Homo sapiens: one gene and its partners. The protein of the gene in region 2 purifies or fractionates together with the protein of the main gene of each other region. This does not show direct contact. Each region holds a gene or a part of one and is shown on either strand. Other genes may lie near its edges.

Region 1 (3,500 bases), on a different chromosome or scaffold from region 2:
CTGCTGATGCCCTTGGGCTACTTATTTGCTCTGGGCCTCCTCAGTTTTTTCATTTAGAAAAATGGCTTGGGCTGAGGCACAGTAGTTCACACTTATAATTCCAGCACTTTGAGAGGCCAAGGCTGGAGGATTATTTGAGCCCGGGAGCTCAAGACCAGTCTGGGCAACATAGCAAGACCTCGTCTCCACAAAAAATTTAAAAATCAGCAGGCATGGTGGTGTGTACCTGTAGTCCTAGCTACTCAGGAGACTATGGCAGGGGGATTGCTTGGGCCCAGGAGTTCAAGGCTGCAGTGAGCTGGGATCACATCACTGCACTCCAGCCTGGGCAACAGAGCAAGACCCTATCTCAAAAAAAAAAAGTTTGTTAAGAAGCAGGGTCTCACAATATTGCCCAGGCTCAAATCCCTGATTTCAAGCAATCCTCCCACCTCAGCACCCCCTAGTAGCTGGAACTACAGACAAGAGCCACTGTGCCTGGCTTAGAAAATAGATTTGTTTTGTTTTGTTTTGTTTGTTTTTGTTTTTGATTTGCCATTTGCCTCACAAGTTCTTGATGAAACAAGTTAAGGTATGTATGTAGCAGGGCTCACATCACCTGACACATCAATACATGCGCTGTATTTTAAATCCCCACACTCTGCTAGATACTCAGGAGTTATACAAAAGAAATGTGAGGAACACAACTTCAGCTGGTCCAGCCAACACACCTTGGGTATTCTGTAGGTGCCAGTGCTGAGCCAGGTGCAGGCAGGAGAGGCAGGTAAGAGAGCTCGCCATCTAGCAGCGGGATGGCCAAGCACCCAGCTCACTTCGTCGGTGCTGGGGGATAAATTGATTCTAACTAGAAGACTCTAGGAAGGCCCAAATGAAACAGCTCTTGGGCCGAACCTATGAAAACACACTAAGAAACATAGAAAGAAAAGGCAAATCTAGAGACAGAAAGCAAATCTGTGGGGGACTGGCGGCTTGAGGACGGGGACAGGGAGTTTGTACAAAAGAGGGATCTTTCTGGGGTGATGGATATGTTCCAAAACTGGATTGTGGTAATGGCTATGAACTCTATTAATTTACTGAAAATCATTAAACTGTACACTTAGAATGGGCATGCTTTATGAGAGATAAATTCTATCTTGGTATTAATTAAAACAAAAATGAGTAGGAGTTTAGCAGATAAGGAAGTCTGGGTGAGACAGAAGAAAGGCATCGAACAATCCAGCCCCAACTCCAACCCCTCCCCTGCACCCCCAACTCTCCCAGGTATCAGCTTAGAGGGTGCTTCTCCAGGGAGCCCCCTATACTGGGGTAGGAGCTCCCCTCCATAGCACTTCACGCTCCCTGGTCTTATTTGATAGGTACCCCACATACAACCCCCAGCCCAAGACCTTAAACTCTGCACAGGTAGGGAGGATGCCTGGGCCCAACCTTCTCAGACTCCAGCTTGGTCCAAGGCACACAGTAGGTATCAGAAGCACTTACTGCGTTAAGAGAACAAACCAAGGTTTGGTGGGGTTGGGGAGGCAGAAGACAGTGGGATGATGAAATCTGCGTTTTAAACTGGGAAGTGCTGCCGGTGTGGCTGGAGTGAAGGAACTGGAAGCATTCTCTGGGCCAAGGGCAGATAAGGCTCCGCTGTGCCGGAAGAGTGGGTGTGAGCCCTCAGAGAGGGCTGACCCAATTAGATGGCAAAGTGAAGACAGACAAAGAGCTCCAAAACTCTCCAGAGATTTCAAGTGAAGACAGAGAAAGAGCTCCAAAACTCTCCAGAGATTTCTAGCTTTAACAAATGAGTAGATGAGACGTGTTGACCATAATAGGTAGGAGACACAGCTTCAGTGAGGGAGATGTGTCCTCGGCTCTGTTTTGATGTGGAACAGCTCGGAGCCCACACCTAGTGTTAGGTCTGCAGCTCAGGGGGACAGCTCAGGTGTATATCTATATCACCTGCCAATGCACAGATGTGGGCATAGGTGAGTTCAGCCAGTGCACCTGGGCAGGTAGAAGGAACTGTCCTCTAGACATGCACTTAATATCATGCCTACCTGAGAGGAGACCTCACTTGCCTAAGGGGACACAGAGCAAGGAAAGATTTAAGCTAGGGCAAGAGAGTACTGAGGCGAAATCTGGGAAGACTTCCAAGAGGAGAACCACGCACCACCCAAAAGCCTTCTTCCTTTTTTCAGGGTCACAGCAACCTTATCCATGCAGTACGTATTTAACAATCCTGAGTTTTCTTAGCCAAGGGTCAGAGACCCATCCCTTGCTGGAGAAGACCTCTTGTCTCATGCCACAGGTGGGGCTAAGACACCTCCACCCCCAGGCTCCTGGCTTCCTGCCAACTTGGGTAGTACCTCAAGCACCAAAAAGATCCAAATACCCAGACAACCCAGCTGCGGGATTAGAAGCATTCAGGGTGCACTTGCTTCTTAAGGTAAAGGCACACAGCCCCAAGAAGTCATCTTTCCTGCCCTGCTGCTGGCAGAGGAGGGTGGCAACAGGAAGAGAGTGGAGGTCTCTGGGAAGGATTTCTTTAGTTCGTCATGCCTCCGATGTGAAGCTTTGCCTCTGAAATTCAATTTTACTTGAAACAACATGGCCAAGGTAGGGCTCTTTAAAGGATTTACTGTGCTTTTCAGATGATTTAAAAATCTTGAGACTTGCGCCCTGCTCATCAGCATCTAAGAAATGTTCCACCTGTCAAACCGTATTGATTACCTGAAGTCATATTACAATCTGCACCACTAGATTCCAACCATTTTTTAGTCTTTGTAGAAAGTGATTTGAAGAAACCTTTTTTCCGTAGGGTAACTGGCACCAAAAGAGCCCCTAAGCCCATGCTGCTGTCTCCATATACAGCCACCCTCTGTCATTCCCAGATTAGAAACTCAATCTAAGGGGAAAAGCACAAGAGCTACCTGACATTCACAGATGTGCAGCTTTACATGAGGACATAAGAACGACACAGAAACCCCCTGCTACCATAGGAGAGCAGGGAGCCCCAAAGTAGAGTGTGATTAAAATCTACAAGTGTCTGCTCATCCTAACTCCAAACATGCCTCCCCCACCCCCCAGCACAGTGACATCAGGTGCTGACAAACTAGCAGAATACACATAATCCCCCATCAATCCTGGCCTGGCAACTCATCAGTTGAACGCATTATCCCACAATGAACAAGCACGGTTTAGGGCTTGCTGGAATGCAAAATTTTAATACAAACCTAACCCCAATCTAGATAAAAATTCAGCTGCCAAGTAGCTTAATCTTCGGTGCCAAATAAACTCCGGGGCCCCCGTTAGTACCCTGGATTATCACTGGTTCATGAGTGAGTGTGGTACTCTACCACTTATGAGTAGCAAAAAGGGTCTTAGAATAAGTGTCACAGGGAGACAACTGCTCTGACGCACACTCAGCAGGGCATGCACTGTACCCGCGCTGCAGACCTTGGAACTGTGCTTGCAGAGCCCTGAAGGTAGGGGGTGTGAGCACCAGCGCTTCAACA
Region 2 (3,500 bases):
CTATCTCAAAAAAAAAAAAAAAAAAAAGGTACTTGCAATAAAGCAAGACATAAGAAATACTTTTAGTTTATGGTTTAGCAAAGAACACAAATTCTTTTTATACACTCAGCTTTGTAAGTAGTATAGAAAAAATAAAAACTAGAAAGATGTATACTAAAGATATGTAAACAGTAATTGCCTCTGATTACTGGCAAGTTATGTAGTTTTAAAATATTTTTGTACTCTCCAAATCTTCTATAATGTGCATGGATTGTGTTTATAATAAGAACAAAATTGAAATGCTACATGAGTGGCTGAGCTGCTTGAGGGCAAGGCTATGCAGAAGGGGTGTAGGACCTTCCTCTGTAGGTTTATAGGCCATCTCAGGTGTTCTGCTTGCTGTAAAGTCTCATATTATTTTCCAGTGACAGCAACTCGACTCCTTTTGAGGTGCCAAGCCTTAATTAGAATTCTAAGCCTTCTTGAAAACCCATATGAGGGCTGGGTGCAGTGGCTCACGTCTGTAATCCCAGCATTTTGGGAGGCTGAGGGAGGTGGCTCACTTAAGGTCAAGAGTTCGAGACCAGCCTGGCCAAAATGGTGAAACACCGTCTCTACTAAAAATACAAAAAATTAGCTGGGCACGGTGCCTCACACCTGTGATCCCAGCTACTCAGGAGACTGAGGCAGGAAAATAGTTTGAACCCAGGAGCAGAGGTTGCAGTGAGCCAAGATCCTGCCACTGCACTCCAGCCTGGGTGACAGAGCAAGACTCCGTCTCAAAAAAAAGAAAAAAGAAAAGAAAAAAAGATCTAATGAAAGTCCTGGACCCCTCTGCACAGAAGAGCTATGCCCTCACACAGTTTCCCATGCCATTTCAGGGGTCCCCGCTCTTTCTCCCTCCCTAGGTAGGGAACTCAGTTCTAGAGCAGGGGCCAGCATCATTCTCTCTGTCTAGCCTGTCTGGTTCTGGCACCTCAGTGCAATACATTCCTGCCTTAAGGGGCTGTTCTGATGCACCTTCCTGCAGGAGGCCTTTCCCATCCCAGCCATGATGAGCTGGAGTACAAACAACATTGGCCTTGGCCAGGATACTCAGGTTTGACTTCCAGCTTTGAGACACACTGCCCTGGGACTCGATGCAACAAACAAAGCTCCTCTAAGATGCAGCTTCGGCCACAAAAAGAGAATATCAGCCTCTTTTTGTGCTAGGGTTAAGGATGATTAAGAATATAATTTTCTTTTTGAGACAGTCTCGCTCTGTTGTCCAAGCTAGAGTACAGCGGCACAATCACGGCTCACTGCAACCTCCACCTCCTGGTTCAAGCGATCCTCCCACCTCAGCCTCCCAAGTAGCTAGGATTACAGGCATGCACCACCACGCCTGGCTAATTTTTTTGTATTTTTAATAAAGATAGGGTTTTGCCATGTTGGCCAAGCTGGTCTTGAACTCCTGAACTCAAGTGACCTGCCTACCTCTGCTTCCCAAAGTGCTGGGATTACAGGCGTGAGCCACGATGCCCGGCCAAGAATGTAAAATATTCTTGATTTGATCCTATGGAGTCTGCCCTCCCAGAGTTCATCTCACAGCTCATACTAATTAACAAACCTACTTACTGAACACCTCCGACAGGCCAGGCCTTTGCCAGGCAGATGGGCATGCACAAGGCAGCGTGCTTGAAGGCGCTCATAGCCTGGTGGGAGATGAACAGGGCAACGGTGACCACAGGGGACTTGCTGCAAATAAGGTGCAGCAGTTGCTCTGGGAACACAGGAGGTAGCACAGACGGGAAGGTACGGAACGGAAAAAGCCATCCCTGAGATGAGATGGGATCGGGTCTGCGATTGTTGGCTGCAGAGGGGCAGGGAAAGCTGCTCCCAGCGGTGTGGACAGAACTTACTAGAGCTCAACATAAAGGCTATGTGGGGTTGCATAAATACTCACAAATCAATAAATAAACAATCAATCAATAATCACCTTGGCAGCACCCACGGGGCCTCACGGACTGCTGGTGGGTGGCGTGAGCCTGGTCTGAGTCTATTAAGTACATCCTTGTTGGATGGTTAACGAGCGAGCAGACTTTAGGGGGATCAGAAAGTTATCATAGGTGAGATGCAGCTTTAAATATAGAGCCATGGACATTGAATTCCAAAGCATTCTTGTTACCAGTGGAGGGTGCCCAAGTTCTTGGCATTTTGAACAAAAAATTGGACAAAATGCACAAACAAAGCAAGGAAACAATGAAGCAACAAAAGCCGAGATTTACTGAAAGCGAAAGTACATTCCACAGGGTGGGAGCAGGCCGAGCACAGGGACTCAAGATCCCTGTTACAGAATTTTCTGTGCTTAAACGCCCTCCAGAGGCTTCCCATTGGTTACTTGGTGTGCATCCTATGTAAATGAAGTAGCGGCCTGCAATCAGAGGCTGAAGTTACAAAGTTACACTTCTATGCAAATAAAGACTTGGCTCACGATCAGTCTGACTGGTTGGGGAAAGCAACCAATCAGAGGCTGAAATGAAGTTACAAAGGTACATTCCTGTGCAAATGTCTGATTGGTTGCAGAAAGCAACCAGTCAGAGATACTTTCAATTTTCCATCTGCCACACAGAAAGTGGGGAGGAGGTTGCAAAGGGAGTAGCCTCCGGTCCTTTTATTACATAGGTGTGGAAAGTTGGGGTTTTGATTTAGTTCTACAAAGTCAGTGTGAATCGGCCTTAGGTTCCCTGCCTCCAGACCCTATTCTCCTGCCTCATCCTGAGAGAAAGGCATCACAGTTTTGCAGTATCCTGTTGCAGAGCTGGGCTTGCTGCCTTTGGCAGGAACTGCAGCCAATGCTGAGCTGATTTCTCCTGAGCGAGGGGTCCTCGGCATCCTGGTTGAATGTTTTGTGCATTATCTCCCGGTCACCCGAGCTTGGGATTCTGCAAGACAAACTGCCTTAAGGCTACTACAGCCCCTCCCTGGACTCTCTCCTGTTCAACTTTTGACACTAGGCTCCCTCACCCCACCTTTGGCGTAGAAGTTACGCCAGCATCACTCACACTGGGTACATCCTGGGTGCATCCTTCCGTGCTGACTAGGCGGGCTGCTGTGTAAATTACCTTTCACATTTCAGCCCCGCTGAAGACAGCCTCCGAGGGTGGCTCTCACCTCACCTGACTTTACTTTCTGCAATGAACATGGTCATCCCACATAGGGGGTTGGCAAGGTCTTCTTGAGCAATTCTTTCCCATTGAGCAACCCAATTAAGAAGATAAAAAATTCTCACACTCAAGGAACTGCAGGGTTCTTAGGTCACACAAATGTGGGCTGGGGGAAGAGGTTAGTCTTTTTTTGCCAGTTGTTAAAATCATCAGTACCCTAGACTTGAAAAGATACATATTCTAGAGGAAGAAGTCTGTTTTTTAGCTTCATCATCTAGGAAAGAAATTTGTCCATTTAGGATAAACATCAGCTCTCCTAAATGCTTTGGTGAGGATGGAAACATATTGTAATTTTCAGATAAAATCAGGAGGCTA
Region 3 (4,155 bases), on a different chromosome or scaffold from region 2:
TTTATAATAAAACTGGTCATTCTATTTTATATTCTTCACATAGATTGTGAATAGCTACACTCAAATTACTTAGGTTTCTGCATTAACTGTATTTGCTGGTATAATTTTAAGAAGAAGAAAATACTTGTAAAAATAATGTCACTCACTTGACATAGAAAATTGACCACAGGCCGGGCGCGGTGGCTCACGCCTGTAATCCCAGCACTTTGGGAGGCCGAAGCGGACGGATCACGAGGTCAGGAGATCGAGACCATCCTGGCTAACATGGTGAAACCCCGTCTCTACTAAAAAATACAAAAAATTAGCCGGGCGTGGTAGCAGGCGCCTGTAGTCCCAGCTACTCGGGTGGCCGAGGCAGGAGAATGGCGTGACCCCGGGAGGCGGAGCTTGCAGTGAGCCAAGATCGCGCCACTGCACTCCAGCCTGGGCGACAGAGCGAGACTCCGTCTCAAAAAAAAAACAAAACAAAACAAAAAAAAAAGAAAATTGACCACAAAGAATGAGTTCAATAATGTTCTGAATTTAATAAAGGATTGATTAAATTCTGCTCAGTAGTTACAAGTAACTGAACATTTTTTTCTCAATGGAAGAATAAATTCAGAATATATCAGTTTTTAAAAAACGAATGAGAATATGAATAGCAACTAAAACGATTAATAGGTGCATTCAATGAGAACTTTTTATTTCAATTATCCACAAAACAATATTACAATACTTTATAAAAATATTAAGTTTAGGCTACCATTATTCATTTAAAAAAGTGTGCTAGAAGGCTGTTTTTGCCAACTTCCTTTTTTGGTAAGGGTTAACTTCCACATTAAGACACTGAAGACGAAAAGCTGTTGGAAAATATCTCCAAATTTACAAAGTTGTTTTTCTTGGCAATTTAAAAATACAGAACAATTTAAAATGAATACACATTAAGTTAGTGTTTTATCCCTACTATACAATTGTTATTATATAAGGAACTGCTCCATTCAGTTAAAACCTAATGAATACCATCAACTTTTCCTGCCTTACTTTCCTGATTAGATTTAGTACATAAACGTAATTTTGTCACCCTTTTGAATATGCTTAGAAAAATTACAATATCATAGTTCACATAAAGCCCTTAAAAAATCTCATGTCACAAGTTGTTGATAAGAGGAAATAATGACAGCACTCTTCTTAGGAAGACCCTCTTGGTAGAGAGTGTCAATACTAAGCAGGTTACGTAAACAGAAAAAACAACCACAATTTTTAGTACCAGAACCACTGCCAACTTGCATGAAGTCCATCTTCACATTTTAAAAATGGTTTGAATTTGAACATATATGCCATGGCACAGAATTTCGAATCTGATGATTAAAATCAGGTAAATAATGATAGTTAAGAATTATATCCTGAAAATAGAGGGGCCTAATATAAGGCTTAATTTAAAGTGTGACTATATGAGAGTATTTTAAAACATATACACCAGACCTTCATTTTATTCATCAATTTTTCCTTTGCTAGACACTCAAACCACTAATGCTGCTATTCAAATCTGTATTTTGAAATTACTGAGTTACTCTTAAAAATTAGTCTTATTTTGTATGTTTCACTTTTGCACTTTAGGGTAAAAACTGTCCCCTTTTCACCACCGTTAATATTCAGAATAAGTTTTCCTCCCCAAATCAACCATTTAATGTATTCTAAAAGGGAAAAAATGACCACCATTACATAGACTTTAGAAGTGAATGTAGGCTGGGCGCGGTGGCTCACGCCTGTAATCCCAGCACTTTGGGAGGCCGAGGCGGGCAGATCACAAGGTCAGGAGATCGAGACTATCCTGGCTAACACGGTGAAACTGCGTCTCTACTAAAAATACAAAAAACTAGCCAGGCGTGGTGGTGGGCACCTGTAGTCCCAGCTACTCGGGAGGCTGAGGCAGGAGAATGGTGTGAACCTGGGAGGCAGAGCTTGCAGTGAGCCGAGATCGCGCCACTGCACTCCAGCCTGGGCGACAGAGCGAGACTCCGTCTCAAAAAAGAAAACAAAAAAAAGTGAATGTAGATTCAAACATGATTTGAAAACTGGAGTTCTAAAAATGTTTTACATAAAAACCATATCCCACTGCAATGAATGTGAAGCCATAACTTCATTATTTTGAACAAATACCCATTTAGTGTGTAAGAAAAATTAGTTTTATAGTTATACTTTATAACTCTTCAAAGTCTCAGAATATAGCTAAGTGAGGAGCTCTGAGTGCCAGCAAAGCCATTCTGTCACTCCATGACATCAACATTAAACATTACCTTCCATCCCTCTAACTTGTAAAACTTTCACTTTCTTTTCTCGTATTTCTTTTAAATACATTTTCCTCTCTGTTCATCTATATTCACCATGAGCAAAAGTGCATTCAAGTCCCTGATCTGGTCATATTTTCTATTTGTGGCACCCATCCCCATAAGGACATATAAGCAATACTCACAGTACGAAGTCTAGTTTTTAAAAAGGGCTTTTAAAATGCTGGGTCTTACTTTGCATGCTATCTAAAGATCAAAACATTTCCCCTTTGATTGGACAGTAGTTTCAATTATATATTGCCTTAAAAAATCAATGCAACCTCATACAAGATTAACTCACTTTCTAGTTACCTTCATTATTCTAAGTCAAACTCTTCAGAAAAGGACTGAAGTGAAAAAGTTCTTATTCTTTCAGTTCCATGAACATGAATATTAATGTACTGCATTATACTTTCAAATTCCACTTCTGTGGTCTAACATTTAATCAAGTTTGAGATCCTGTTTATATTCCTTTTGAAAAACCTGGCCCATGTCCATGCAAAAGAAAGCATATATTAAGATTGCATACTGACTGTTTAACTTAGAAAAAACTTTTGAGAATAATAAATGCAAGAAACTTTAAAAAACTGGAATGGAATTATTTGGTCCCATGATATTCCTTAATTTTAGATTTTATTATGGTATAGCTTTTTATCTCTCAAGTTTTATCTGTAACAATAAATAATTTTCTTTGAGCAATTCTGACTTTGGGGAAAAAAAGAAAGGAAATGATTTATAAATAAGCAGGAGCCTCACTGTCCTTCATTACCATGCTGTCACCCACACTGTCATCAGTATCTTAGCTCTATTTTGTTTGGACCCTGAAATACGCTGATAAATTCATCATTGGTACATTAGAGTTTAATACTTGGGGAAAAAAAAGTGGTTTTGTGCAACCATATCTGGGATTCCAGTTTACCATTAAAAACATGCAGAGTAAAGAAGATTTTCTTCTTTTGATTCCTGTAGAAAATCTACACAAGTTCTTTATATTTTGGCAGATTTGTGCATATAAAATAGGCTACTTGAATTATAAATTTTCTCCTGGCTGGTACTGTGGCTCTGTAGCAGTGAAGTAGTCTTCCAAGAAGGACTGAATATATTCAAATGTTGGTCTTTCATCAGGGTCCTTCTTCCAACACAGATTCATCAATTCATGGAGGGATTCTGGACAGCCCTGAGGGCACGGCATCCTGTATCCTCGCTCCACTTGTTCTAATACTTCACGGTTCACCATACCTAATACACAAGATTAAAACATTAAAGAACAATGGTCCTAACTACCACTAGGAAAACATAACAAACCCCCTAGCCACTAACTCATTCAAAGTATATTATTTAGTGAAACAATTCTTTTAACAAAGCAACAAAATAAATTTTAAACATGAGAATATCAAGAAGAGCTTAGAAAATGCTAATCTATGTTTTAACATGTCTAATTTTTCATTCCATCTTATATCTTATTTTTAATACTAATGTCTTCAAAAGCCAACCCCATTTGATTAATAAGAATTTAGGGTGCTACTATGAGGTACTGGTACTTTCTAATATTAACATTTAACAATGACCAAACTTGGGTTACTGAGGAATGGTGGCAAGATCCTGTCTGAAAGAACTTTAAAACAGGAATTCAGAAGAAAGTTCTAGTCTTGGTTTTGCCAAATATACCAACTACATAACTTTATATTGAATTACTTCTGTGAAAGTTTCCTTATCTAATATTACCTGTTTGACTTTCTTCAAGATATTACACATAGTTCCTTTCTTGTATTCCTTTGTAATCCCCCCTTCCTCAACCCCCTGATCAGCAGTTCACCCCATCTTATCACAGGACAGCAAAATGCCTCCT
Region 4 (3,014 bases), on a different chromosome or scaffold from region 2:
CTCTAACCACACAAGCCAGTCAGCGAGCACTGCATGCTCAGGGACCCCTCCTCTCCAAAACCCTACAAGGTTTGCCCTACACTACTGGGGGCACAGGAACCCTCCAGGCCCTCAGGGCACCTCTTCCACTCTGCAGGATGACTCTGACATTGGCTGAGGTGTCCACATGGTGGGAGGGGTCCAGGGTATGGCACAGCCTGGGTCAGTGTTGGGTGGGGTCTTGGGGGCAGCGGGAGGGGCAGGAGTCATCATCACCCCCAGACCTCCACACCAGGACTGCATGGACCTGGCAGGTTTCCCCTCTTTGCAGTTTCTTTCCTCTCGTGATGTTTATTTGTGATGTTCATTGCAAAATGACTCTACCTAAATGTGTGGAGGTATAGGGGTGGGGTTTGGAATATGGGACCTCAGAATGGAGGTGTCCCCGGCTGCCCTTCCAGATGGCACCAAGTCCAGCCACAGGTCAGCTACACACATAGCACACTGGGACAATGCTGGGCTCCATTCAGGGTATTTTATTTTCTTAAAGTAGACAACCTTTGACTTTCATCCAATCCCCAGCTTCTCTTTCCCCCGTACATCTCTTCACGTCCTTGGCTGTGATTCCGCACACTGACCTCGGACACACAGCTACTGCACGGAGAGAGGGAGGGAGATCTGGCAAGGGCTCCGGCAGTGCCTCTCCTCTCCATGGCGCAGTTCGTATTTACACACGGCCCTTGGCGAACGTCCTTTCAACGCAGTTGCCCATAGGCCCTGGGACAGGAAGGCCCAGATCAGGGTCCCAGCAGGGCCTCCCTCAGGCCACAACGCTGGCTGTGCCTTCACAGGAGTCAGAGCATTTCCAGCCAGTCTCAGGCGCGGGGCATGCTGGGACCAGGGGCACCACCCCTTGCTCCCCTTCCTTCACTCAGCAAAGCCACAAATAATTTACTCTTTAAATACCAAGACACTTAGCTATTGTTCATTTGCTCCCAGGTGAAAGAACCTTCTTTAAATATGTCGTGTTTATTTTCTTAAATAAAAACAAAGCAGAAAACCCCACCATTAACAAGAGGACACTGCAGAGGCTTATGTACAACACGTGTCCCGCGAGGCTGGCGCAGGACTGCCACTCACTCCAAAATTTCTTTGGAGCAGAGAGACAGATCGTCCAGATAACAACTTTTACACTCAGCAAGCCAGACACAAAAAAGACCACCTGAAAAAAAATATGTTTTGAAAATCTGCATTTAAAAAAGAATACTCAACTGCATTTGAAATTTTCTGGATTTTTTTCTGCGAAACACCACGAGATTTGGCCAAAAAAAAAAAAAAACCAAAAAACAAAACAAAAAAAAAATGTCAGAGAAGGAAAACCAGGTTTTGATTTATAAAACATCAGACTAGTAGAAGAAAAGCTGGAATCCCAGCTGGCCTAGTTTGAAATAAATCGTGCCACTCGTTTTGTTGTATTGGTTTTTGCTGCATATTTTGAAGCTGTTTTTTAAAAAGAGCTGTGAGTGGCTGGAGGTCTGGTTAGTGCTGTCACCCGGCTCCTAAGGTCCCAGGTCCAGAATGAAAGTGGTGCTGAGCAGCTGTGTGCAGGCCAGCAGGGAAGGTGCACAGACCCTGCACTGGTCCTCCCTCTTGGTCAGCGGCAAGGTCCCTAGGCCAGAGCTCGGGCAGCGAGCTGGCCCTCCTCCAGGCGACAGGGGTGCAGTTGGCCTACCTTGCCTCAGCCCTGCTGCCTATCCCTAACAATCCAATGCAGACCCCCAAGTGGAGTGGGGCCAACTCAGGAAGGCAAAGTGAAGGGGCAGGTTGGGCTTGTAGTGACCTTGTGACAGCTTCTCAAGTCTTCAAGAGACCTCGACATTTTAGAGGATTTTGCCATCTCCAGATGTGTGTGTGTGCATGTGTGTGTGTCTATCTACCTAGCAATCTATCCGTAAATATTTATGTTTGCAGAAATGTGGGGCCAAGGAGGCAGAGGCCAAGGGGTGGGGGACATTCTTTAGGCCCCCTGTTTTCTGCCCCTGGATTGGGCCTCTCTAGCACGCGTTGGGGCATGACACCCCGTGGGTTTCACCATAGGCAGGCGGGCCCCGGGCCCAGCTCCTCAGCAAAGGCCAATGTACTTGAGATTGTTCTGTATGATGACGTCTGTCACCGCGTCGAAGACAAACTGGATGTTACTGGTGTCGGTGGCGCAGGTGAAGTGGGAGTAGATCTCCTTGGTCTCCTTGTTGCGGTTCAGGTCTTCAAACTGCCGCTGGATGTAGACAGCGGCCTCCTCGTACGTGTTCTGGCCCTTGTACTCGGGAAAGCAGATGGTGAGCGGGATGCGGCGGATCTTCTCTGCCAGCAGGTCCTTCTTGTTCAGGAAGAGGATGAGTGAGGTGTTGATGAACCAGTTGTTGTTGCAGATGGAGTCAAAGAGGCGCAAGCTCTCTGCCATCCGACTCTGGGGAAAGGAAAGTACTGGCGTTAATCAGGCCCGCAGCAGGCAGAGACAGACCCTAGACCTGCAGCCCTGCCAGAGGAAGCCTTTGCTAGGGTCTCAGCCCAAGACTGGTCCCTGCAATGGCACCTCCTTCTGCTGGGGAAGCCCAGGTTAAATGTCTTCACCCACCTCCCACGGAAATAGCCGGCAGCACCCTCCTTGCCAGTGGCAAGTGCTTGGAAGATGTTCTCTTGCCCCTTTTGGGTCTCTCCTCTGGGTGCCAGTGATCTCAACATATAGCTTTGGGGCTACAGATGTGCCAAGCACAGCCTCCTAAACCGCTGGGCACCTCCAGCTCCGAGGACCCCCCATCTTCCCACTGCCCATCCACAGGCTGCCCCACACCTGTACAAGGAAGGCCATCTTCTGCAGGAGCCCCCGTCACATCATAGCTCCCTCAATGCAGGCGCTGGCAGCCTTGTGCCCTATCTGGGTTCTGGCCCAGTCCTTCAAAACTCTGATCCTTCCATGTGGTACCATCGGACACTAGGAAGTCTGTGAGGGAGCAGCCTTCACTTCTGTAACCAAA

The links. The genes of interacting proteins can lie anywhere in the genome.
Region 1: the proteins of ACBD7 (region 2) and HPCAL1 purify together in Homo sapiens (affinity purification with mass spectrometry; 2 studies listed by BioGRID and IntAct, with this or other methods). This does not show direct contact.
Region 3: the proteins of ACBD7 (region 2) and YES1 purify together in Homo sapiens (affinity purification with mass spectrometry; one large-scale study listed by BioGRID and IntAct). This does not show direct contact.
Region 4: the proteins of ACBD7 (region 2) and GNAZ purify together in Homo sapiens (affinity purification with mass spectrometry; 2 studies listed by BioGRID and IntAct, with this or other methods). This does not show direct contact.

The regions. Positions count from the first base shown.
Region 1 is NC_000002.12:10,305,904-10,309,403, reverse strand, and holds part of HPCAL1 (hippocalcin-like protein 1), read right to left. Parts: intron 1-3,500. UniProt on the Homo sapiens protein: May be involved in the calcium-dependent regulation of rhodopsin phosphorylation.
Region 2 is NC_000010.11:15,082,277-15,085,776, forward strand, and holds part of ACBD7 (acyl-CoA-binding domain-containing protein 7), read right to left. Parts: intron 1-3,500. UniProt on the Homo sapiens protein: Binds medium- and long-chain acyl-CoA esters.
Region 3 is NC_000018.10:721,088-725,242, forward strand, and holds the end of YES1 (tyrosine-protein kinase Yes), read right to left. Parts: intron 3,546-4,155; coding exon 3,337-3,545; 3' UTR 501-3,336; downstream 1-500. UniProt on the Homo sapiens protein: Non-receptor protein tyrosine kinase that is involved in the regulation of cell growth and survival, apoptosis, cell-cell adhesion, cytoskeleton remodeling, and differentiation.
Region 4 is NC_000022.11:23,122,519-23,125,532, reverse strand, and holds the end of GNAZ (guanine nucleotide-binding protein G(z) subunit alpha), read right to left. Parts: coding exon of another isoform or gene 2,883-3,014; exon of another isoform or gene 2,831-2,882; intron 2,447-2,830; coding exon 2,102-2,446; 3' UTR 501-2,101; downstream 1-500. UniProt on the Homo sapiens protein: Guanine nucleotide-binding proteins (G proteins) are involved as modulators or transducers in various transmembrane signaling systems.